3 separate regions of the Homo sapiens genome follow, and all the other regions are linked to region 3. The links come from fine-mapping of genetic effects on gene expression. A gene starts in region 3. Each other region holds a variant in brackets. All regions are shown on one strand. Distances are from middle to middle.

Region 1 (8,308 bases), 28 kb before region 3:
TTACTTTTCCTTTTTTTTTTTTTTTTTTTTGAGACGGAGTCTCACTCTGTCGCCCAGGCTGGAATGCAGTGGCGCAATCTCGGCTCACTGCAAGCTCCACCTCCCGGGTTCCCATCATTCTCCTGCCTCAGCCTCCCAAGTAGCTGGGACTACAGGCACCCGCCACCACTCCCAGCTATTTTTGTATTTTTAGTAGAGGCAGTGTTTCACCCTGTTTAGCCAGGATGGTCTCGATCTCCCTGATCGAGATCTGCCCACCTCGGCCTCCCTAAGTGCTGGGATTACAGGCGTGAGCCACGGTGGCCAGCAGCATCTTCACTTTTCAAGAAAGCTAGCTACCTGTACTTCCCCCCAACCCAGGACTTGGTATAGTTATATTGACATCTGATGGCATATTACCTTGGGAAACTTACTTGCCAAACACAAAGGAAGCCATAAAGGATACTAGATGCTCATGTGAATAACCAGCATCTCACTACTTTTCTGTCCCTGACACTTCCAATCTAAGGGATGGCATGACATCCTGGTGATCTATGTGGTTAAAAAAGATAACTGATGGGGAGTGCAGACACATTTATGGCCTCATAGGGGCTCCTCATCTCTCTGGGCTTCTGTTTCACAACTTGGGCTGACCTGAGTTGTGACCGTGACCCTGTGGGGGAATTAGGGAGTCCTCTTCCCTCCCTCCCAAATCAAGACTCATGCAAAACACTGGCAAGGGAGCCAAGTTTATAGTCTAAATTTTATTATCTCCAAGTCACAATGCTGATCACAAATGGGCACCCTTTAAAACAGTAACAAAAAACACCACCACACATGGAAAAATCCTTGCAACTAAACACAGTGGACCAACAGAGACAACTCTCACAGTGTCTTAAGGTCTGGGAATCTGGGCATGCTGCCCACAGGCTTGAGGAGACATCTTCAGGTTTAAGGCAAAGGGAACAGCCTACAAAAGGCACAACCACCAGCTACCCCTAGAAGAATCTCTTAGTTATTTCCTCCTTGGGGGTTACAGATTAAGTGCCTCTCCCCACTCTCCATCCCACACCTGTGACTCAGAGTGATTAGGCCAGCTGCTAGATGGAAGGAATAAAAACAGTGACATTACCGGGGAGAGACACAGCCACCATCTTTGCCCTCAGGTTCTGTAGAAGGACAGGGACAGTGGCCAGGTTACCCCTGGCAGACGTATGTACTGCAGTAATAGGAATCTCTTCCACAGAGGCAGCAGAGAAGTGGTTTAGTGCCATGGATAGGGAGGAAAGATAGGAGCCCTTGCCCAGAAGGTGACTGGCTTCCTTAGGCCTTAAGCCCAGGAGTTTTTATATTCTGTCTGCAAGGACAAAAATAGAATTCGGGGAAAATAAGGTAGTAACATCTAAAACACTTGTAGCAGGAAAGACGTGGAGAAGAGCAATTGCAAAGGACAGGGTAGACTGCTTGCTGGATAATATTTGCCTTTAAAGAGATGCATTGGTCCACAGCAACTGGAAAAGGGGTGTAGCAAGAAGAATGGAAAGAAGAGAAGCAAGGCCCTCTAATTCCACTTACCTCAAAAGACTGAGCCCTGAGGACTATGTGAATACACACCCCTAAAGGCAAAGGCTCTCACTCCACCATCCCTTTCTCACAAAAGCATCTGGTGTGCCATCTCTCCCCACAGTAGGGTATTGGCCCTCAGCAGAGAACAGAAGCCCATCATAGTACAGGTATTGATGGATGCTCAGACTCCTAAAAACCTAAGTCAAAGAGAAGGGCTCCTACCCACCTACTCTGAGCTTTTCTGCACAATGGGACCCTCTGTGCAGACAGCCATGCTTCCACAGGGTTAGAGTTAAGGGAATACAAGTATACAAGAGGATAACAAATGCCAACTAAAAGTGAAAGGCCAGGTCTTTTTAGACTTGGTGGGGAAGGCTGGCTGATACATTCTCCATTATCTGGGATGCACGGAAGAGTCAAAAGGGAATCCAGAGGGGCTAGAAAACCAGAAGACTAGACTTGTTTCATTTAAAGGCAGGGAGAGAGAGCAAGAAACAGAAACAAAGAGAAAAAATTAAAATAATATTAAGGATAAGAAGCCAGGCTTTAAAAATGAACATCTTAGAAAACAAAACAAACAGGAAGGAGCTTCCTTGGGAACAGAAGACACTTCAATTTCCCAGAAGTGAAGAACAGCAGAAGACATGGGCTTCTGTATCTAGACTCAGAAGCTTGGGGCTGTCTGGCTCTCTCTGCTCCCCCGAACACAGCCAACTCAAGTGAAGAGTGAAGATGGGACGAGGTCCACTTGTTTCTCCCTCTCTCTAGAGCCTGTCCTCAGAGGAAGGCAGGGGTCCTCCTCTTTCAGCTGTTTGCTGGTAGGAGCCACACCCTATATCTTTGAAGCCCTTCTGGTAGTAGATAGCCAGCTGTATTTCTCTTCTGAGTTCTCACCTCTGCTGCTCTGACAGGGGTTGGAAAAAGGGAAGAACCACCAAAGTGTTAGTGGGCCTTCTGGGCATTCACAAGCTGTTTTCAAAAAGCCACACTTCTAAATAATGTGTTTTAAGTAATGTCCTTAAACAAAAGCAACAAAACCCCCAGTCCTTCTCCTCTATGATCTTTAGAACTGGTTTTTTCTGCTATAACATCTCAAATTTAGATTTCCCTTTTCCTTGACTGCCTTCCTGTATTTTTTCCTTGTAGCTTCCCAATTGAAAACTGTCATGTTAACAATCGTTTCTACTTCAACCCTGCCCAATACACTTGCCAAACAAACAAACTGGCAAATTTCAGGACTCCTTTAAGCCTCCTGAGATATCCCATGATTATTATAACTTAAAGCATTAATCAGAGGCTGGGTGGGGTGGCTCACACCTGTAATCCCAACACTTTGGGAGGCCAAGGCAGGTGGATCACCTGAGGTCAGGAGTTCAAGACCAGCCTGGCCAATATGGTGAAACCCCATTCCCACTAAAAATACAAAAATTAGCCAGGTGTGGTGGTGCGTGCCTGTAATCCTAGCTACTTAGGAGGCTGAGGCAAGAGAATCGCTTGAACTCAGGAGATGGAGGTTGCAGTGAGCCGAGATTGCACCACTGCACTCCAGCCTGGATAACAGACTGAGACGCCGTCTCAAAAAAAAAAAAAAAAAAAAAAAAAAAAAAAGCATTAATTAAGTGATTTTTGTTTATTAAGCAAGTGTGAGCATTAGTTTTAACAATATTCACAGTAAGTTGTGCACTTACTTTTATATGATGTTAAGATTTAAAATATTCAGAAACTTGTATTAACTGGAACCCCTGCTTACAACCTGAAATAACAAAGTTGGAATTTGTTATCAGGTCATAACAAAAAGACTGTTTTCCAGAGAAACACACCCAGAAAATGAGGGAAATCCTCTGGGGAGAAGGAAAGCCCACTGACGGAGCATGTGCATTAAGTATAGGAAGGAACTCTCATACCTCAGGTGGAGGGGGCTTGATGGTGACTGGCTGGGGAGTCCTCCGGGGTGGGGAGGGCTTTGGCTGCACCTGCTGCTGGGCGGGGTTATAGTAGGTCACTCCTCCATATACCTGTGATGGGGCCTGGGACCCCACAAGCCAGGAGAAGAAAAAGTTAGGAATGAATTCATCCAACCTATGATGAACAGGAAATATTATTCAGCCATAAGAGAATTGGGGAATTTATAATTTTAAAAATATCTAATCTGCCCACCCTTCAAAATAAAGTGACTATTCATTTTTGCCTTAATTCTTCATTATTATGCTCTGGTTTTTATTTCTTCAAAGTACTGCCCAGCTTTCTCTAATTCCTACCATCAGCTGACAAATGGAAAAGGCTGAGTTCAGTAGCGACACTACAGATACTTGATTATGTCAACGTGGTGGAAGTTAAGCAGGACAGAGGTAGGGGTGATAAGGAGTAGAATACAGCTTCTTTATGCAATAGAGTAAAAACCAGGTATTGCCACCTATGATGTACCACAACACAGGAAAGAAACACCATTAAAGAAACTGAACGCTGGGTGCGGTGGCTTATGCCTGTAATCCCAGCACTTTCGGAGGCCGAGGCAGGTGGATCGGTTGAGGTCAGGAGTTTGAGACCAGCTTGGCCAACATGGTGAAACGCCATCTCTACTAGAAATACAAAAACTAGCCGGGCATGGTGGCAGGCACTGTAATCCCAGCTACTCGGGAGGCTGAGGCAGAAGAATCGCTTGAACCCAAGAGGTGGAGGTTACAGTGAACCGAGATCACGCCACTGCACTCCAAGCCTGGGCAACGGAGAAAAAAACTGAAAAGAATAAAGATGATGGGCATTACATAAGCTGCATTTCCAGCTCCTGACCACTAAGAGGCGTCTTGGTGTCACA[T/C]ACAAATCAGTGGCACTGAAAATGTTCTCTCAAATTCCTTTAGCATTCTCCCCATACCACATTCCTGTCTGAATTAAAGAATGTGTATCTAGAAAAACATGATCATTAGCCATCTCACCTGTGTATTAGGATACAGATGAGGCGGTGGTGGGGGAGGCAGTGCCCCTGGAGCATAAGGGTAACTGGGATTACCAAAGTTCATGACGCCTGGAGCAGAAAAGTAAGTAGGAGCAAGCAACTGCTGAGGTGGTGGCTGTCCTGGAGACATGGACACTGGTGGGGGATAGAGGCCTGGATTGGGCAGAGGAGCTGGTGTCTGGTGGGGATGTAAACCTGGATAAGGAGAAGAAAAAAACTGAAAAATAAAGTAACATCATTTTCACAGGATGGCCCGGCTGGACTGCTCAGTATAATCAGGCTCAGAATGGAAGTCCTCAGGATGGACACAAGAGGAACTTGTTGCCCAAGCAGCCAGGATGGCCAGACTCCCAGGCTAGCAGCACAAAGCTCAGGAGGATGGGTTTTGTGGCACTCCCAACATATATCCTCAGGTACTGGAAGCATATAAGCAGAGACACAAAGCTTACCTGGGTGGGGAAGGTTCATTCCTGGCTGCACAAGCATGCCCTGTGGAGGCAGCGGGGCAGGGCTGTCACCATGGGTATAGATTGGTCCCTGGAACTGCACTGTAAGATATCACATTGGGACTCTCATAAACCCTTACTCTTCACATGGACAAGTCTCCTTGTTCCCCAAGCCCTTTAAAAGATGTTCTCAATATTCCATGCGAAGAAAACAGCAACCAGACAATGTTTGATAACCACTATAAGAGGTCAGAAGAGAAATTCAGGAGCCAGGAGCCTGGTATCTTACTTCACTTCACCCTGCCAAGAAAAGTACCCCAACAGTAAGAAAAAACTCACGTGGATCATAGTAATGTCCCTCCATGATACTGATATGCACTGGAGGGGCGGGGGGCTCTGGCACAGGTCTTTGCCGCTGGGATGAATAGCGTTTGGCTCGACCACCCTGGACACCCTGAGACAAAGAAAGAGGCCTAAACAATAAGAATTCTAGAGGGCTCTCATATCAAGTCCTACCTTCCTTTAGGTGTTGAAAAACACTTGGTACATGGCAGGTATTTAATGGATATTTGCAAAGTGAGCTGAAAAATAATGAAAAGATATCAAGATTTGAACCTAAACCTTCTACCTTACATTTAGGAGATCCAAATTAAAAGAAACATGCATAATCAATGGAAAAACTGACTTTATCTTGGCCGGGCGTGGTGGCTCATGCCTGTAATCCCAATACTTTGGGAGGCCAGGGTGGGTGGATCATGAGGTCAGGAGTCAGGACCAGCCTGGCCAACATGGTGAAACCCTGTCTTTACTAAAAATACAAAAATTAGCTGGGCATGATGGCACGTGCCTGTAATGCCAGCTACTCGGGAGGCTGAGGCAGAATTGCTTGAACTGGGACCCAGGAGGCAGAGCTTGCAGTGAGCCGTGATCCCGTCACTGCACTCTAGCCTGGGCAACAGAGCGAGACTCTGTCTCAAAAAAAAAGAAAGAAAGAAAAGAAAAAAAAAAAAGACCTTATCTTGGTTTAAACAATGAACAAGCTGTGTAACAGGCAGCTCCCTCCCCCATCTACCCCTTTCCCCTTCTGTACCATTTCTTCCATCCGGTTAAACTGAGGTGGAGGTCCTGCTCCCATGTGTATATGGTTGGGCATACCTGTAATACACCAAAAAAGTCACTTCTGCAGATCAGACATACGTGAGTGGGACTCAAAGATACTATCAAGAGACAGGTTTAAGTGTCAACATAAGGAATGCCTTTTTTCTTTTAACTAATAAAATTCTCTATAAACTATCTCTGCTTTCTGTCAACACCAGCATTTAGAAATTTGTCCCCACTGTCTGCCATCTTAATATAGCAATAAAGCCCTTGAAAATGAAAAATAAAATGACTTCAGTGAAGAAAATCAAATTCAAATTTTTTCCTATCAAATTGTTCCCTGCATAGAATCCCTGAGAGATTATAATTAGCACATTACATTATCCAACATATTGAAAAATCTCAGCCCAAGAGTTTCTGAGCAACAGCTGGACAAGGGAGGGATGCTTTGTAAATCTACTTGATTATATCCATTCACAGGGGTCTGGGTTGGAAGTTTGAAAGGAGATTCTCCTCTGGCTAAAATGACTCAAGACAAAAAGGAATGTTCTAGAGATTGTCCTCCAATAGTAAGAAGGGTGCTGCAACTCCAATTGAGGAGTTCCAATATTTAAGTTAGATTTCAGACTAAGGGAAGATCCTTTGATCTATCTGGCTGGAGAAAAACAAACCACAATAGGCAAAATGGGTAATAGGTAGGTCTTACTCTCTAAAACTATGCTGCCCAATATGATATCCACTAACCAAATGTGGACACTTAAGTTTCAATTAATTAAAAGTTCAATTCCGGCTGGATGCAGTGGCTCATGCTTATAAGCCCAGCACTCTGGGTGGCAGAGGTAAGACTGCTTGAGCCCAGGAGTTCAAGACCAGCCTGGAAAACACAGTGAGACCCCCCGTCTTTTCAAAAAATAAAAAAAATCAGCCAGGTGTAATGATGTGTGCTTATGATCTTAGCTACTGAGGAGGCTGAGATGGGAGGATTGCTTGAGCCCTGGAGGCGGAGGTTGCAGTGAGCCAAGGTCACGCTACTGCACTCCAGACTCTAGCCTGGGTGACAAAGTGGGACCCATCTAAAAAAAAAAAAAAACAAAAAAAAAAACTATATCTATGTAAACACAACAACAACAAAAACACAAAAGTACAATCATTACACAAAGTTCTATTGGGCAATCTGTCTCTAGAAGATTAAGGAAATAAGGGAGGCTTGCCTTTCAAATATATTAGAGAAGATCTTGATCAAAATTCAACTGAATAAATTTCTGCCTTCAAATATTTAACCATTAGTTCAAATAATAACGTTGTCTTCTTCTACTTTTTGTGGAAAATGATCCTGTACTCAGGAGGCTCAATGATGACCGGGCAGGTGCAGTGTCTTCCATCTGTAATCCCAGCGCTTTAGGAGGATCTCTTGAGCCCAGGAGTTCAAGATTAGCCTGGGCAATATAGCAAGACCCATCACTACAAAAAATTTTTTAAAAATTAGCTGGGGCTGGCACAGTGGCTCACGCCTGTAATCCCAGCACTCTGGGAGGCCAAGATGGGTCGATCACTTAAGGTCAGGAGTTCGAGACCAGCCTGGCCAACATAATGAAACCCCATCTCTATGAAAAATACAAAAATTAGGTGTGGGCCAGGCACGGTGGCTCATGCCTGTAATCCCAGCACTCTGGGAGGCCAAGGTGGGCGGATCACGAGGTCAGGAGATCGAGACCATCCTGGCTAACACGGTGAAACCGTCTCTACTAAAAATACAAAAAAAAAAACTAGCCAGTCGCGGTGGTGGGCGCCTGTAGTCCCAGCTATTCAGGAGGCTGAGGCAGGAGAATGGCGTGAACCCAGGAGGCAGAGCTTGCAGTGAGCCGAGATCACACCACTGCACTCCAGCCTGGGCAACAGTGAGACTCTGTCTCAAAAAAAAAAAAAAAAAATTAGCCAGGTGTGGTGGTGAGAGCCTGTAATCCCAGCTACTCAGGAGGCTGAGGCAGGAGAATTGTTTGAGCCCTGGACGCAGAGGTTGTAGTGAGCCAAGATCGTGCCACTGCACTCCAGCCTGGGCAACAGAGCAAGTCTCTGTCACAAAAAAAAAAAAAAAAAAAAAAAGGCCAGGCACGGTGGCTGTGGCTCACACCTGTAATCCCGGCACTTTGGGAAGCCAAGGTGGGAGGATCACAAGGTCAAGAGATCAAGACCATCCTGGCCAACATGGTGAAACCCGGTCTCTACTAAAAATACAAAAATTAGCCCAGCGTGGTAGTGCACGCCT
Region 2 (7,961 bases), 220 kb before region 3:
GTACACCCTGCGTGAGGCCCACTTGTGCACACAGACACACGTAACCCTCCCGGGTGAGCTGTGTGCACATGCACACAGAAACATATGCCCCTTGAGAGCTGTGTACTCACATCCCTGTGAGCTTTGTGTGAGTGCATTGTGCACACACGCACATGTCCATTCTGTGTGGGCTGCGTGTGCACACCTGTACACAGAAACATCCTTGTGCGCTATGTGTGCATGTGTACATCCGGCGTGACCTCTGTGTGTGCACGCGTGTGTGTGTGATCTCTGATATGCACTGCGGGGGTGGCCAGGATCCGATGCCAGCTGCAGCCACAATGGCTCCCTCCCTACCACCCTAACCCAGCCCACCTGCCAGGGCATCACAGGAGGTCTGTCCCCCCCTCCCAAGAGACCCCGCCCAGGGAGGGAAGAGGAGGAGAGGCTCCCTTTCCCCGGGCAGGCCTCAATCCTCGGGAGCCTATGAGCAACATCCTCACAGTACCCCTTGTGGCGAGGCGGGGGCTGGGCGCTTTCATGGAGGTGGGGTGGGGGTGGGCGGCGGGCCAGAGGGCAACCCAGACGTGTGTTATGCCTCCCTCCTCCATCTTCATCCTCCCCGCCGCTACTGCTCCCCCAGGCTATAAACGGGAAAGTCCCTTCTGTCCTCAGGAGAAAGCTCCCAAAACACACGCGCTCCCGGCCCTGCCTTCCCTTCCAACCACCCCCTTCTTCCTACTTGCGGGCATTCGAAGAGCTGCTGCCTATGCAGCGCATCCCCCTCCTGTGTCTCCCCTCCCGTCTGCCCTCCCCCTTCACCAGCCAGTGGGCTGCTCTCCATAAGATCACCCAGGACCTAAGCGAGAAATCCAGGGGCCGTCATCGGACTGCACCTTGCGGGCCTCACCGCATCCTGCCTACCAGGCTGTGCGTTCCCCGCCATCACCCCACCCTGTCCTTCTGAGTTCCTGGCGTCTTTCTCAGCTCTCCTGTGCCCCACACAGCAGTGGGAGGTGTTTCTGAATAGCGCCCCCCACTTAAACCCGGGACTGAGGGCAGCACCCCTGCCCTCAGGGTGAGTCAAGCGCCTTCACAAAGCTTCCTTCTGAAGCCCTGCCCCTGTCAGGCCTTCGACTCCACAGCACCGGCTTCCAGGTGTGCTCAGAACCATAGGGAATTTTCTCTTCTAACAAGCACCAGACCTGCTTGCTGCCAAGCGTTTGAACGTGCTGTTCCTTTGCCCAGAGTAGCCGCTGCTTCCTGCAGCCTTCTCCTCCCCTAGCTAATGCCCACCCACCTATTGTTGTCACTTGGGAAGAAAACAGACACCTTCAAGGAGAGGGCTCCCCTGGTAGCCCCCACCCCAAGACAGAGCTGGATGCCCCTCGCTTCCGTAGGGAAAGCACTTCTCCTGCAGGATGGCATTGCTCTCTCCCCTTCCATGGCACGTAGTATGTGCTCAGTAAATATGTGTTGGATGAGAAACTGAAGGTGTCCCCAGGCCTACACCACTGCCATGCCCGAACACTATCCATGCTATGGTGGGCACCATCTCTCTGATGACAGTTCTGTGTCCACAACCCAGACCCCTCCACACAAACCCAGATGGGGCTGTGCCGCTGTTTTCCAGATGTATTCATTCAACAAATATTTGTAGGGTACCTACTGTGTGTCAGAAGATGTTCAAGATCAGCATCATCCGATGGAAATAGCATATGAGCCATGTATGTAGTTTCAAGTTTTTCATTAGCCACATTAAAAAAGTAAAAGGAAACAAATGAAATTAATTTTAGTCACGTATTTTATTTAACCTAGCACACCCAAAGTATTTTCATCTTAATGCCTCATTGATATTAAAAAGTATTAAGGAGATAGTTTACATTCTTTTTTTCATACTAAGTCTTCCAAATCTGCACCCACCTAGCCAATTCTTTCCTCTAGAGATTTAGCAATGAGCCTCGGCTACAGCGGGAGACTCCGTCTCAAAATAAATAAAACTAAATTAAAAAGAGATTTAGCTGAGAGAGGCCACCTCTTCCAGGAAGGCTTCTGAGCCCTGCCCCAAGCGTGATTCAGTGCCTCTGCCCTGCACTCCCGTAGGCCTGTCAAGCCTGTTGCAGCTCTGCCCAGGTGGCATCCCGGTCACCTTCCTCTGGCTCAGTCTCTCTGCGGAGGATGGGCCCTGGCTCAGTGCAAAGCACATCAGCCCTGGAGGACCACACTCCACAGCAGTGGATCTCACATGGGGGTGATTTTGCCCCCCAGGGGGGCGTTTAGCAGTGTCTGGAGACATATTTGGTTGTTACAGCTGGGGTGGGAGAGAAGCACCACTAGGGTTTCATGGGCGGAAGGTTGGAGATGTTGCTTAGCATCCTGCAATGCACAGGACAGCCCCCACAACCTGGCTCAGATCTTCACATTGGTGCTGAAGCTGAGCAACTCTGCTCGACAGCAGTGAACTGTGGACCACTGAGGACAACCCCAAGACTAGAGGTTCCAAACAGCAAAGGCACTACCCCAAGGGGCATTTTGTAAATGTGGGGGCCACTGCTTTGTTTTCACAATGATGGGGGACCCCATTGGCATTTAGTGGGCAAGGGCTATGGACGTCAAGATATCCTCTTGAAATAAAAACCTGCTTGGCACAACTTTTTTGTTTTTATTTTTATTCTTTGAGACAGGGTCTCCATCTGTTGCCCAGACTAGAGTGCAGTGGTGTTATCACGGCTCACTGCAGCCTCAACCTCCAGGGATCCAGCAACTCTCCCACCTGAGC[C/A]CCCCCCCCAAGTAGCTGACACCACAGATGCACACTACAAGGCTAGGCTAATTTTTGTATTTTTTTTTGTAGAGGCAGGGTTTCACCATGTTGCCCAGGCTGGTCTTGAACTCCTGGACTCAAGTGATCCGTCAGCCTCTGCCTCCCAAAGTTCTGAGATTACAGGCTTGCGCCACTGCGCCCAGCCTCAGGCACAACTTTAGAATGTCCAACTGGACATTGGCATAAGTGAAAACCCTGGGCCCAAACCCTGTTTTACATGTAAAACATTAAGGGTTTTGAGGCCAGGCACGGTGGCTCACGCCTGTAATCCCAGCACTTTGGGAGGCCGAGGCGGGCGGATCATGAGGTCAGGAGATCGAGACCATCCTGGCCAACACAGTGAAACCCCGTCTCTACTAAAAATACAAAAATTAGCCGGGTGTGGCGACGTGTGCCAGTAGTCCCAGCTGCTGGGGAGGCTGAGGCAGGAGAATGGCAATGGCGTGAACCCGGGAGGCGGAGCTTGCAGTGAGCCGAGATTGCGCCACTGCCCTCCAGCCTGGGTGACACAGCAAGACTCTGTCTCAAAAAATAAAAGAAAAGAAAAGATAAAGAAAAAACCATTAAGGGTTTTGTTTGGGCTTTTTTTGCATTGTTTTATTATAGATCAAACATGCCGATTTTTATTCCAACATCCACCCATGCTCTTTAATGTTCCTGGGCTTCTTGTACAGAATGGCTTCCAACCTTCTTTTAAATCCAAATGTATTCATTCAAAAGAGGGGCAAGCATTAATCTATTGAAACACATAGCACTGCCCCTCAATTTATCCTTTATAATACGGTTGTGACAACATATTGATCTGTGAAATCACGTGTACAGGTACAGTATGTTAGATTTCATTTCAGACTCGTAAAGATGTTAGAAAATATTTACTGGAGGAAAAGCGCCTCGGTCCCCGCGGTTGCCTCCAGCCTAGGGCGGCCGGTGAGTCAAGCAAGGCGCTGCCGCCACCTGGTGGTTAATGTAGAAATGGCAGGCAGCCTCTAGCAGAAGGAACCCTTTGCCTTACTCCCTCCCGGCTAGGCCCCCACAGCTTCCATCCCAATCCTGTGTTCTTGTTAAGTTTCTTTCTTCTTTTTCTTTCTTTCTTTCCTTTCTTTCTTCTTTCTTTTTTCTTTTCTTTCTTTCTTTCTTTCCTTTCTGTCCTTTCTTTCCTTCCCTTTCTTTCTCTTTCGTCCTTTCCCTTTCCTTTCTCCTTTCTTTCCTTCCTTCCTTCTTTCTTTTTCTTTCTTTCTTTCTTATTTGAGACGGAGTCCTGCTCTGTCGCCCAGGCTGGAGTGCAATGGCACGATCTCGGCTCACTGCAAGCTCCAGCTCCCAGGTTCAAGCAATTCTCTTGCCTCAGCCTCCCTAATAGCTGGGATTACAGGCGCCCGCCACCACGCCCAGCTAACTTTTTTGTATTTTTAGTAGAGACGGGGTTTCACCATGTTGGCCAGGCTGGTTTTGAACTCCTGACCTCAAGTGATCCGCCCACCTCAGCCTCCCAAAGTGCTGGAATTACAGGCATGAGCCACTGCGCCAGGCCTCTTGTTAGGTTTCTATGAGTCCCTGACCCCAGCTCCTGTGCCATCTGTCATTCCTGCCGTGATGGTGAAGGCTTCCCAAGGACCAGAAATGTCTAGGGGTGGCTCCGGCTTCCTCCCTCAGACTGGGGGTTCCCTGAAGGTGGGGGCAGCTTTCCTCCTCTTCTCTCCCACTCCCAGACTGGGGCTCCTTGACATGGGCAGTGTGGATCCCCAGACTGAGGGCTTCCCAAGGGGCAGGACTTTCTCCTTCTCAGCATCTCCAAAGACCCCAGCACAAGGTAAGCCTCAGAAGGCAGCTTGGAAGGGTGCCCTGGCCAGCCCCTTGGCCCCAGTGCTCATTCCTGGCCATCACAGGCCCAGAGCACATGACGAAACCCATCCCAAGCCCCCAGACCAGACGCCAAGAGGAGGGGGTGGAGGCAGCAAGGCTGGAGGCATGTGTAGAATAAATAGAACTTTATTCTTTATCCAGTAGATCTCAGTGGAAAGCCCAACAGTAACAGGTGCACCCACGGGCTCCAGGGGAAGGGGCCCCAACCCCTGGTGAAGGAGGTCGGGGCAGAGCCAGCTCCCCCAGCTGGGGGTGCAGGGGTGAGGGGAGACCCCCCTGTAGGCCCGTCCTGCGGGGTAAGGAGGGGGCACGGGGGTGGGACAGGTTGGGGGTGGGGGGCAGGCCAGGGAAATGGAGGAACTCGGGCCAAGTGTGTGTCGGCCCATCTACTGTCCAGTGTGTGTGTGTTTGTGTGTGTGCGCACGCGCATGTGTGTGGTGTCTGGGGGCCCTATGGGGGTGCTGGTGGCTGAGGCCGGGGGTGGGGGCAGCTCGGGCCCCTGGCCAGCCCCTTCACAGTGGGGGCTGGGGAGCCTAGATGATGTGGGCCCTGACGGGAGGCAGCTCTGCCGAGGAGCCAGGTCTGGGAAAACTCTGTCCCGGGGCCCTTGCTCTGCCCTGCTCCATGCCTCATGGTGGGTGCAGGCAAGTGCCAAGGCCAGGAGCCTGTCCTTTCAGGGCTGCCCCACACCGTCCACACCCAGTGGTCAGGCAGAGGGAGAAAGGGGCTGGCGGCTTCTCCAGTGGGAGGGAGGGGAAGGCAGGCCTTGGAAAGTTAGTACTTCACAGTTTTAAAGAGAAAACTGAGGAGGAAAAGGCTGAGGAGGAGAACTGGGGGGCACAGGGACATGAAAGGAGAGTGGGGGCCCCTTCCGAGCCACTCCCTCCCCCGGACCCACCCCCTCCAGCTCTGGATCCAGCTCCCCCCAATACACAGCACAAATTCCTTCAGTATAAATGTGCTTAAAATGAAAATTCTTATTAAAAAAATCAAAACAAAAAAATTAAAATAAAAACAAAACCAGCGAGAATTAATACCTGGGGTTGGTATGGCAGGGTATGTACAGGGGGAACCCCCCGCCCCTGTCCCACCCCCTCTGTCACCAACCGAGGCAGGGGGGAGGTTGAGGTTCCCCAGCTGGGGAGCAATGGCTTGTGAGTTCTGAGGATGGGGGAGCCAAGTCCTGGCGTTTGCTGGTGATGAAGATGTGGTGAGCTGGGCAGAGGGGTGTCTTGATGAACACGAGGCCCCCAGGACCCATCCTGAGACCCAGGACCAGGGGCCTCACTCAGTTCCTGGCCTCGGCCTCTGACGTCAGCCCAGGCTGTGGGAGCAGGCAGTCCACTGAGGGCCCAGGCCTCTGTCCAAGGAGTCGCTGCCTCCTCCCTCCCCGTCCCCCAGGGAAGGTCCCCAGTACTGCCCGGGAGGGCAGGTGGGGGCAGGGCTGGTGCGGGGTCACATGGTCGGTAGAAAGGCAGAGAAAAGCCGGGGCGGAGGGCGAGGGCTGTGTCCATGTGGCGTGGGCGGTCACGGGGAGTGGGTGGCCGGGCTGCTTCTGTTGGAGCTGGGGCTGAGGCTGGGGCTACAGCTGCCTGGCGGGGGGGCCAGGCCACCCCCGTCCCGCCCCCCACCCCCCGGCTGTCCGCTCAGAGTGTCCAGGCCCTCTGAGTTCTCCAACATTTCCTGGATGAGAGGCGGCATGGAGCCCGGGATCTCCATCTTCAGCGTGATCACCCGCTCAGCCCCTGCAGGAAAGGAGGGGGCAGAGGTCAGCACGCTGGGCCAGCCCTCCCACCCCCAGCCCCAGCAAGCCTGGCTCGAGGTGGGAAGATCAATACTGCTGATATTAGCATCTTTCTTGGGATTCAGTTCTTTGACACGAGCCAGCTCTCTTAAGCCCCCAGGTCCAGAGGCTGGTGGCAATGGGGCAAAGTGGTCCCGAACTCCGGCTCCAGGGCCAGACTGCCGGCCTGGGCTAGACGCCAAGCCCTTCCTTCCCCTGTGCTGTGTGCTAGGGATCATCCCGACCCCTCTGTAAACACGAATGTTATCCCCGCCCTCGGAAGGGAAACTGTAGCTAGGAGCTGTTGAGTGACCCACACAAGGACACACACCCACGTGTCTGGTTCCAGAGCCACGATCTGAACTACCACACAAAGGTGACACAGGCGGGCCACCTCGGCAAAGTGGAGTCACTAGGGGACCTCAGCCTAGACACAGATGGGGACAGGTGTCGTATTGTCCTGGCACAAAGACATGGGGTGCTGGCTTGGATGTGGGGGCCTGGGCCAGGTGTCGGGGGCCGGTACCCCTCCAGGTCTGTGAGCCTCACCCTTGGCGCTGATGCTTCGCAGGTCAGTAATCTTCATTAGCATCTTGGGGAACATGTGGGGGCGGCTGGGCCTCCGCTTCCGCACGTAGACCTTTAGCGCCTCCAGCAGCGGCTCCTGCAGCATGTCCACCCGGTCCGGCTGCTCCAGGTCCTGGCGGTCTGAGGAAGCAGAACCACCCCCTGAGCAGCTGGGAACACAGCTGCACCCCCAGCCTCGGCCACCGGGGGGCGTGCCTGCCCAGGCCATGGAGGAGGGCAGCTCGCAGGCGCCTCCCCACACAGGGCAGGGCATGGGGTCTCTGCTGCCGCAGGGTACAGAGGCCCTTAAAAGGGAGCAACGGGAGCTGAGGGTGAGGGGGTGCCCCAAACCCTCCCTGAGCCCAGTTAGTGGGATGGGACCCCAAATGGGCAGTGCCATCCTCAAGCAGGGAGAGGGTTCCCAGGCAGGCTCCCACTCCCCCCTGTTATTCTGGAAACCAGATGAAATGGCAGAAATCACAACAATAAAATAGCAACTAACAAGCACTGGAGCTCGCTCTGGGCACCTGCACAGTATCTGTTACCACCGTAATCCTCCCATCAACTTCATGAGCTAGAGACCGTTACCGCCCCCACTGTACAGAAACGGAGGCCCAGAGAAGTTCAGCAACCTGCTCAGGGTCATGCATCGGCCAGGAGGTGACCCTGGTTGGTCCGACCCTCAAACCCTCACTCTTAACCTCCCTAGAAGGGGTGTTGCCCAGAAATCGGGAACAGGAGTCCAGGCCCCACATGGCCCCCTTGCTGTGTAGTTGCAGACCAGACCCTGCCCTCTAGAGATACCTAACAGAGGTGGCCTGAAAGAGCTCCCTGGAAGAGACTCCAGGGCTGCACCCCCGTCCCAGCCCAGCCCCCAGACCCAGGCCCCCTGCCCACCTCCGCAGATGAGGCAGATGGCGCTGAGCAGCCCCGTCTCCGCATCATCCA
Region 3 (8,308 bases):
GACTGGGCAACAGAGTGAGACCCTGCCTCTTTTTTAAAAAAAAAAAAAAAAAAAAAAGAGGGCTGGGCACAGTGGCTCACACCCGTAATCCACCTGTAATCCCGGTACTTTGGGAAGCTGAGGCGGACGGATCACCTGAGTTCACGAGTTCATGACCAGCCTGGCCAACATGGTAAAACCCCGTCTCTACTACAAATACAAAAATTAGCTGGGTGTGGTGGTGTGCACCTGTAATCCCAGCTACTTGGGAAGCTGAGACAGGAGAATCGCTTGAACCCGGGAGGTGGAGGTTGCAGCGAGCTAAGATCATGCCACTGCACTCTTGCCTGGGTTACAGAGCAAGACTCCATCTCAAGCAAAAAAAAAAAAAGAAAAAGAAAGTTTTTAATTTTTGTTGAGTACACAGTAGGTATATATTTATGTAGTACATGAGTTTTGTTTTTGTTTTTGTTTTTTGAGACAGAGTTTCCCTCTTGTTGCCCAGGATGAAGTGCAATGGCACAATCTTGGCTCACTGCAACCTCCACCTCCTGGGTTCAAGTGATTCTCCTGCCTCAGCCTCCTGAGTCGCTGGGATTACAGGCACCTGCCACCACGCCTACTTAATTTTTCTTATTTTCAGTAGAGACTGAAAATGGGTTTCGCCATGTTGGCCAGGCTAGTCTCGAACTCCTGACCGCAGGTGATTCACCCGCCTCGGCCTCCCAAAGTGCTGGGATTACAGGTGTGAGCCACCAAGCCCGGCCCATGAGATATTTTTATATAGATATACAATGTGTAATAATCATGTAAGGGTAAATGGGGTATGGATCGCCTCAAGCATTTATCCTTTGTTACAAACAATTCAATTACGTTCTTTTATTAATATATATATATACTTTTTTTTTGAGATGGAGTCTTGCCCTGTCACCAGGCTGGAGTGCAGTGGCTTGATTTCGGCTCACTGCAACCTCTGCCTCCCGGATTCAAGCGATTCTCCTGCCTCAGCCTCCTGAGTAGCTGGGACTACAGGGGCGTGCAAGCACGCCCAGCTAATTTTTGTATTTTTAGTAGAGACGAGATTTCACCATGTTGGCCAGGATGGTCTCAATCTCTTGACCTTGTTATCCACCCACCTCAGCCTCCCGAAGTGCTGGGATTACAGGCATGAGCCACTGTGCCCAGCCAATAGTTATTTTTAAATGTACAATAAGTTACTGGTTGACTGTAGTCACCATGTTGCAAATATGAAATTCTAGATCTTAGTCATTTTTATTTTTTAAATTTTCTGAGACAAGAGTCTTGCTCTGTTGCCCAGGCTGGAGTACAGTGGTGTGATTATGGCTCACTGCCACCTCCACCTCCCAGGCTCAAGGGATTCTCCTGCCTCAGCCACTTGAGTAGCTGGAATTACAGGCATGCGGGACCATGAGCTGCTAATTTTTGTATTTTTAGTAGAGATGGAGTTTTGCCATGTTGGCCAGGCTGGTCTTGACCTCCTAGCCTCAAGTGACTGGCCCACCTTGGCCTCCCACAGTGCTGGGATTACAGGTGTGAGCCATCGCGCTGGGTTTAGATCTTATTCATTCTAATTACTATTCTTTTTGTACCCCTACAGCCTTTCTTTTATTTATTTATTTTTTTTTTTTTGAGACAGAGTCTCACTCTGTCACCCAGGTAGCAGTGCAGTGGCATGATTTCAGCTCACTGCCACCTCCATCTCCTGGGATCAAACGATTTTCGTGTCTCAGCCTCCCAAGTAGCTGCGATTACAGGCATGCATCACCACACCAAGCTAATTTTTGTATTTTTTAGTAGAGATGGGTTTTTTTTTTTGAGACGGAGTCTTGCTCTGTCACCCAGGCTGGAGTGCAGTGGCACAATCTCAGCTCACTGCAAGCTCCGCCTCCCGGATTCACACCATTTTCCTGCCTCAGCCTCCCGAGTAGCTGGGACTACAGGCGCCCGCCACCACGCCCAGCTAATTTATTATTATTTTTTTTTGTATTTTTAGTAGGGACGGGGTTTCACCATGTTAGCCAGGACGGTTTCGATCTCCTGACCTCGTGATCCGCCCGCCTGGGCCTCACAAAGTGCTGGGATTATAGGCGTGAGCCACCGCGCCGGGCCAGAGATGGAGTTTCACCATTTTGGCCACGTTGGTCTCAAACTCCTGGCCTCAAGTGATCCGTCTGCCTCAGCCTTCCAAAGTGCTGGGATTACAGGCGTGAGCCACTGCTCCCGGCCCCTGTGGGCTTTCTTGACTGTTGTTCTCTCTGCCTAGAACACATCTTACCCAGCCAACTGTTTAATCTTTCCCGACTGCCTAAGATGGATTCAGTACCCAGCTGTAACACCCTACTTAGCCCTATCCCAGTGCTATCCCCTATCAGCAAGTGGTACAATTGCTTGAATGTTTGTCTGACTTCCTTATTGAGTTGTAAGATCTCTAAAGATAGGAATTTTGTTATAGTGTTCACTATTCCATCCTCAAGGGCTTAACAGATTCTAAAATGTAGTAACAGTTCTAAAAATGTATAGACAAAATCTTTGATCCACCATCCAATTCCCCCTATATATAATCCCATTACCAGAACTCAGGAGTCCACTCAACAACCCAGGAAACAAACACTTACTCTGATGGCATCTCTAGTAGTTTATCCAAAAGACAGGAAACTTTCTCCTAAAAACAGAAAAATCCCCACCTATAAAATGATGGATGCTCTTGGCACAAAACATTCCGAATCCTACCCTTTCAAAGTCTTCAGATAGATTTGGAAAAAAATAACCAATTGGCTGGCTTCTCAACCTACACTGCATAAAACAAACTGTCAAACATCTTTCAGAGGACTTCAAGATATCCTCACTCTCTTATTTAGAACCTCATATTCTTCAGACAGGAAGAGAAGCCAACTAACAGTATAACACCTGTGGCTTGAGACGGCGTGCCCCAAGTTTTCCCTAGGTCTAAAGTGAACAAGACCTTCTGTAACACTTTTTCAGAAGCATAAATGAAGAATACACAAGAGGATAAACACGGAGGTCATGGTACGTTTGCAACGAAGGTGTGTACACGTTTTTAAAAAGCATTTCTGATCTATACCATAGGAAAAAACCTGTCATACTCACTTCCGAGTCTTCTGCACTTTCATAATCCGAGAGAACAGCTGAAATAAAACAGAAATATGTGGAAAAAAAGAAACCCAGAAACATTTTTTGGCTGCTTATTACAGGTCAGACTAAGAGTCTCATTTAATTCTGACATCAACCTACAACGTGGATAAAATTATAGTCCCCACTTACAAAAGGAGAAACAGGCTCAGAGGGTAACTTGCTGAAGACTATACTGCTAAAGCCTATGCTCTTAACCACTATGTTACAAAAAGGCACTCTGTGGCCCTAAATCCGTGACAGTGTGTGAGAATGTCGATGTTGGAAATAGATGACCTGAGTTTATGTTAAAAAAAACTCTTGTCCTAATGGGGTAAAAGATGCTACTCACCATCACCTTCAATGCCATCTTCACTCTCCTGAAAGAAAGCAGAAGACATGGGTTAGTTCTGTGATTTCCAGAGGTGGGGAGCCCAATAAAGAAATGTGGGTGAAAAGCTGAAGATTCAGCACAAAATGGTTGGAGAGGGAGACAGAGATAGGTAAATCTTTATCAAGTAGTAGCCAAGGCAGGTCTGGTCTCCTTCCCTCCAGCCCCGACTTCTGAATAAAACATCCGCTTTCCATCTCCAGCGGCTCTACCATCCTCCCAGAAACCCCCAATCCTTCTTCTTCCCTTGGAACTCCGGATGCAAACTCGCATTGGGATAACTCCCCTTTTCTCTCAAAAACAAAAAAAAGTCCCAGTATCTACTATCAACTCACAGACTACCTAGCATCACCTACACCCCGCCCCCGGCCGGCTCGCCGCCCGGTCCCCACCCCGCCCCGCCTGCGCGCACTCACACACTCCGACTCCTCAGCACTCTTGGCGCCCCCGCTCTCCACCCGCCGCAGATGAAGGGCCCCGGTTCGGCCTCCGCGCTGTGAAGGCAGAGAGCCGCTGCCGCCGCCTCCGGCGCTACCGCTGCAGCTCCCGCCTCCCCGCAACGGGGAGCCGCCGCTGTCGGAGCCCGAAGCACCAGATTCCTCGTCCTCGGTGTCTTGCGAAGCGCGCTGCCGCCGCCGGTCCGCCATCTTACGGAGAACGGCCACCACCGGCGAGGTACTTACGCACCGCGCCCGTCGCAGAGGCTGCTGGGAGGCTGGATAGCTAGTCCCGGCGTGCTACGCGTGCGGCGCTCGGCCATCCCGCTGTGTGTGTGTGTGTGTGTGTGTGTGTGTGTGTGTGTGTGTGTGTGTGTGTGTGTGTTGGGGTGTGTGTGTGTGTGTTGGGGTGTGTGTGTGTGTGTGTGTGTGTGTGTGTGTTGGGGGAGGGGCGGGGCACTGGGCGGGGCCTAGGCCTGCGGCACGTTTGCGGCCGACCCGGATTACGTCTATCGGTGATGTAAGGGGGCGTGGCGCGGCTCCTGACTTCCCTTGGGCAGGCCTAGGGCGAGGGGAATTGAGACTTCAGCAGCCTCCCGGGTTCCTGGCCCGGCCATCTTGGGCTTCCCGAGTGGAAGGAGTCAACCTGTCACAGCTTCACTGCAACACTAGGGCTGTTTCATGGTTTTCTGTTTCCATTTCTCACTTCTACCTACGTTTGAAGCAGGTCAATTTACTGCATTCCTTTGCTTGGTAAAATCACGAATCAAGGTAAATCTTAAAAGCTGTAGTGCTGCGTCAGATTTGCTGCACCAGCCTTGTTTAAGATAACGGGCGAAGGAGAAACCAGTTGTCTGCAGTGAAGCCAGAGGACTTCTTGTTGCAGCGTTTTCTCTGTGTTCTCATTTCCTCTTCACGTTTCTTCCCACCCCAGCCATCACCTGTCCCAAAGTGCAGGCTGGTATGATGCCAGTATTACCGGTTTTGTTTTGGCTTTTTCGAGGCAGGGTCTCACTCTGTTGCCCAGGCTGGAGTGCAGTAGCGCGGCTCACTGCAGCCTTGACCTCCCAGGCACAGGTGACCTCCTTGCCTTAGCTTCCTTAGTAGTTGGGACAACGGGCACACACTACCACACCCGGCTAATTTTTCTGTTTTTTGTAGAGATGGGGTCTCGCTCTTGCCCAGGCTTGTCTCCTGGCTGGGATCAAGCGATCCTTTCGTCTCAGCCTCCCAAAGTGCTGGGACTACAGGCATGAGCTACTGCCCTTGTCAGGATTTTAGAACCTATTTAAAAATAAATGGTCAGTAGAAACAGATGTTGATTCAAAATCCTGACATTATTTCCTTCTTAAGGTTTATGGAAATTATTTCATTTTGGCAAGGCATTGGCCACCATTGAAAAGAATCAGTGTGTTTTCTTTGGACCATTATAAGGATATACAAAGTGCATGAGCTAAGTTTTTAGTGCACCTACAGGAGTGCACGTTAATAATGTATGTTATCAAACAAAGGCCACCATGGCATAGAATTCTTCCCTGAGTAAAATATTTTTTTTTTTTTTGAGAGGGAGTCTCACTCTGTCTGTCGCCCAGGCTGGGGTGCAGTGGGGTGATCTCGGCCCACTGAAAGCTCCGTCTCCCGGGTTCACGCCATTCTCCTGCCTCAGCCTCCCGAGTAGCTGGGACTACAGGTGTCTGCCGCCAGGCCCGACTAACTTTTTATGTTTTTAGTAGAGATGAGGTTTCACCGTGTTAGCCAGGATGGTCTCGATCTCCTGACCTCGTGATCCGCCGTTCTTGGCCTCCCAAAGTGCTGGGATTACAGGCGTGAGCCACCGCGCCCGGCCTTTCCTGAGTAAAATTTTTATAAATGACATGGTTAAGGATCCTGATGTTTATCAAATTTATAGATAACATGAAACTGGAAGTAATTATGAATGCCTTCAGAGATGAAAGGAAAATTCAAGGCCGGGCGCGGTGGCTCACGCCTGTAATCCTAGCACTTTGGGAGGCCGAGGCGGGCAGATCACGAGGTCAGGAGATCAAGACCATCCTGGCTAACACGGTGAAACCCCGTCTCTACTAAAAATAAAAAAAAATAGACGGGCGTGGTGGCAGGCGCCTGTAGTCCCAGCTATTCGGGAGGCTGAGGCAGAATGGCGTGAACCCGGTAGGCGGAGCTTGCAGTGAGCCGAGATCGCGCCACTGCACTCCAGCCTGGGAGACAAAGAGATTCTGTTTCAAAAAAAAGAAAAAAAGAAAATTCAAACAATCTCAGCTAATTAGACAAGTGGCCAAACGTGACAACTTATAAGTCCAGCTCCAAAAGCCAACTGCCTGAGTTCAAAATGGAGGATAATATGATTTAATAAGTGTTAAAGAAAAAGAACCTGGAGGATCTTATCGATCACAGACTAAATTGGTGCAAATAAGGCTGCCAAGTTTAGTGTCTAAATAAGGAAAGTGATAGTCTGCCACTTTGTCCTTCAGTTGTTTAGTCTGGGTCCAGTTTTTTTTTTTTTTTTTGAGGGGGACGGAGTCTCGCTCTGTCGCCCAGGCTGGAGTGGAGTGGTGCGATCTGGGCTCACTGCAACCTCCGCCTTTCAGGTTCAAGCGATTCTCCTGCCTCAGCCTCCTGTGTAGCTGGGATTACAGGCGCGCACCACCACGCCCAGCTAATTTTTGTATTTTTAGTAGAGACGGGGTTTCACCATGTTGGTCAGGCTGCTCTTGAACTCCTGACCTCGTGATCCACCCGCCTTGGCCTCCCAAAGTGCTGGGATTACAGGCCTGAGCCACCGCGCCGGGCCTGGAGCCCACAGCAATCTTTAACTAGGGACTATGAAGAAAGGAGGGATTGGTCTTTTTTTCATCATCCTAGAAGGCAAAGCAAAAACCAGTGAGTTTAAGTTACAAGAAGTTAGATTTTTTGTCAACAAGCAAGAATTTTCAAACACTTAGGGGGAAAAATGTATGTAGAAAAAGTGTTGAAGCACAGCCTGGAATTTGCTTGTCTGGAGTGTTATCAAGGGTAAATCACATATCGGGGTCACACTAGATGACCTCTAATGTCTTTCCAGCTATAAGATTTTGTTAACTTACGAAGTATCCTATAATCTCGTTTCTAAAATTGCTAATTATACTTTTTTTTTTTTGGAGTTGGAGTCTCCCTCTATCACCCAGGCTGGAGTGCAATGGCATGATCTCGGCTCACTGCAACCTCTGCCTCCTGGGTTCAAGCAATTCTCCTGCCTCAGCCTCCCGAGTAGCTGGGATTACAGGTGCCTGTCACCAAGCCTGGCTAATTTATTTTATTTTTAGTAGAGACAGGGTTTCACCGTGTTGGCCAAGCTGGTTTCGAACTTCTGACCTCAGGTGATCTACCCACCTCAGTCTCCCAAAGTGGCTGGGATTACAAATGTGAGCCAACACGCCCGACCCTTTTTTTTTGTTGGGGGTGGGTGGGATGGAGTCTCGCTGTCACCCAGGCTGAAGTGCAGCAGCTTGATCTTGGCTTACCACAACTTCCACTTCCCAGGTTCAAGAGATTTTCCTGCCTCAGCCTCCCAAGTAACTGGGATAACAGGTGCATGCCACCACATCTGGATAATTTTTGTATTTTTAGTAGATGGGGTTTTACCATGTTTTACTGTGTTGGCCAGGCTGGTCTTGAACCTCTGACCACAAGTGATCTGCCCACCTCAGCCACCAAAGTGCTGGGATCACAGGTGTGAGCCACTGCGCCCAGCCAAGTTGCTGATTATACTTAAGGAAGTACACTGGACAAAGAGGGATGAAACATACATTATACTTATACACAAATGGAAGTGAGTACCTTATTATAAAGGGGAAAATAATGTGTTATTCTTTTTTATTGAGAAAATGGATTTCTTTTTCCAATGTTTCAAATATACAAGCAGAATTGTTTGTTTGCCAATAAATATAATAAATTGAAGCAGAAGTTCAAAAATTAACAGCCACAATAGTTTATTTACAATTGAACTCTTTATAAGATATTTACAAGACAACCAATTTTACACATCAGAAATGGTATCAAAAGTTATGAATTACAACACAGACAACAATATGAAATGGGCATAAAACAAAGCTGAAGTAGACAGACAAGCAATTTTTTTTAATTTATTAACACTAGCTTAAACTTTGTTAAAGAAAAACAAACAACTATGTTTTAGGAGAACTGCAGGGCCTTCAGTTGAAGATTGAATTCACAGTGTTGTATCCCATGTAGGGAAAAATAAGACTAATTTTCCCCCCACACTCTAACACACTGTAATTTTGCACTTGGAACTTTGCTAATCTACTGTCCAACCTCCTTCTCAACAAAGTCAAAT

The links.
Region 1: its variant is fine-mapped to the expression of CASC3 in whole blood (INTERVAL, PIP 0.98).
Region 2: its variant is fine-mapped to the expression of CASC3 in whole blood (TOPMed, PIP above 0.99).

The regions. Positions count from the first base shown.
Region 1 is chr17:40,164,588-40,172,895 of GRCh38, reverse strand. It overlaps CASC3 (CASC3 exon junction complex subunit), which reads right to left. Exons shown (of 14, transcript NM_007359.5): 8 at 6,035-6,099; 9 at 5,284-5,398; 10 at 4,948-5,046; 11 at 4,479-4,693; 12 at 3,450-3,572; 13 at 3,234-3,298; 14 at 725-2,449. The coding sequence ends at 3,275. Among named protein-coding and RNA genes, the nearest start is that of MIR6866, 6.8 kb to the right of the region's middle. RefSeq lists an enhancer at 4,273-4,832. The variant T/C (reference allele first, on the strand shown) is at 4,361.
Region 2 is chr17:40,354,456-40,362,416 of GRCh38, reverse strand. It overlaps RARA (retinoic acid receptor alpha), which reads right to left. Exons shown (of 9, transcript NM_000964.4): 7 at 7,911-7,961; 8 at 6,996-7,154; 9 at 4,774-6,408. The coding sequence ends at 6,191. GJD3 (gap junction protein delta 3) reads left to right here. Exons shown (of 1, transcript NM_152219.4): 1 at 1-1,765. Among named protein-coding and RNA genes, the nearest start is that of GJD3-AS1, 4.4 kb to the left of the region's middle. RefSeq lists a silencer at 7,255-7,324. The variant C/A (reference allele first, on the strand shown) is at 2,759.
Region 3 is chr17:40,136,408-40,144,715 of GRCh38, reverse strand. It overlaps CASC3 (CASC3 exon junction complex subunit), which reads right to left and starts at 4,179. Exons shown (of 14, transcript NM_007359.5): 1 at 3,937-4,179; 2 at 3,482-3,509; 3 at 3,109-3,146. The coding sequence starts at 4,167. MSL1 (MSL complex subunit 1) reads right to left here. Exons shown (of 9, transcript NM_001365919.1): 9 at 7,799-8,308. RefSeq lists enhancers at 3,863-4,162, 3,628-4,568.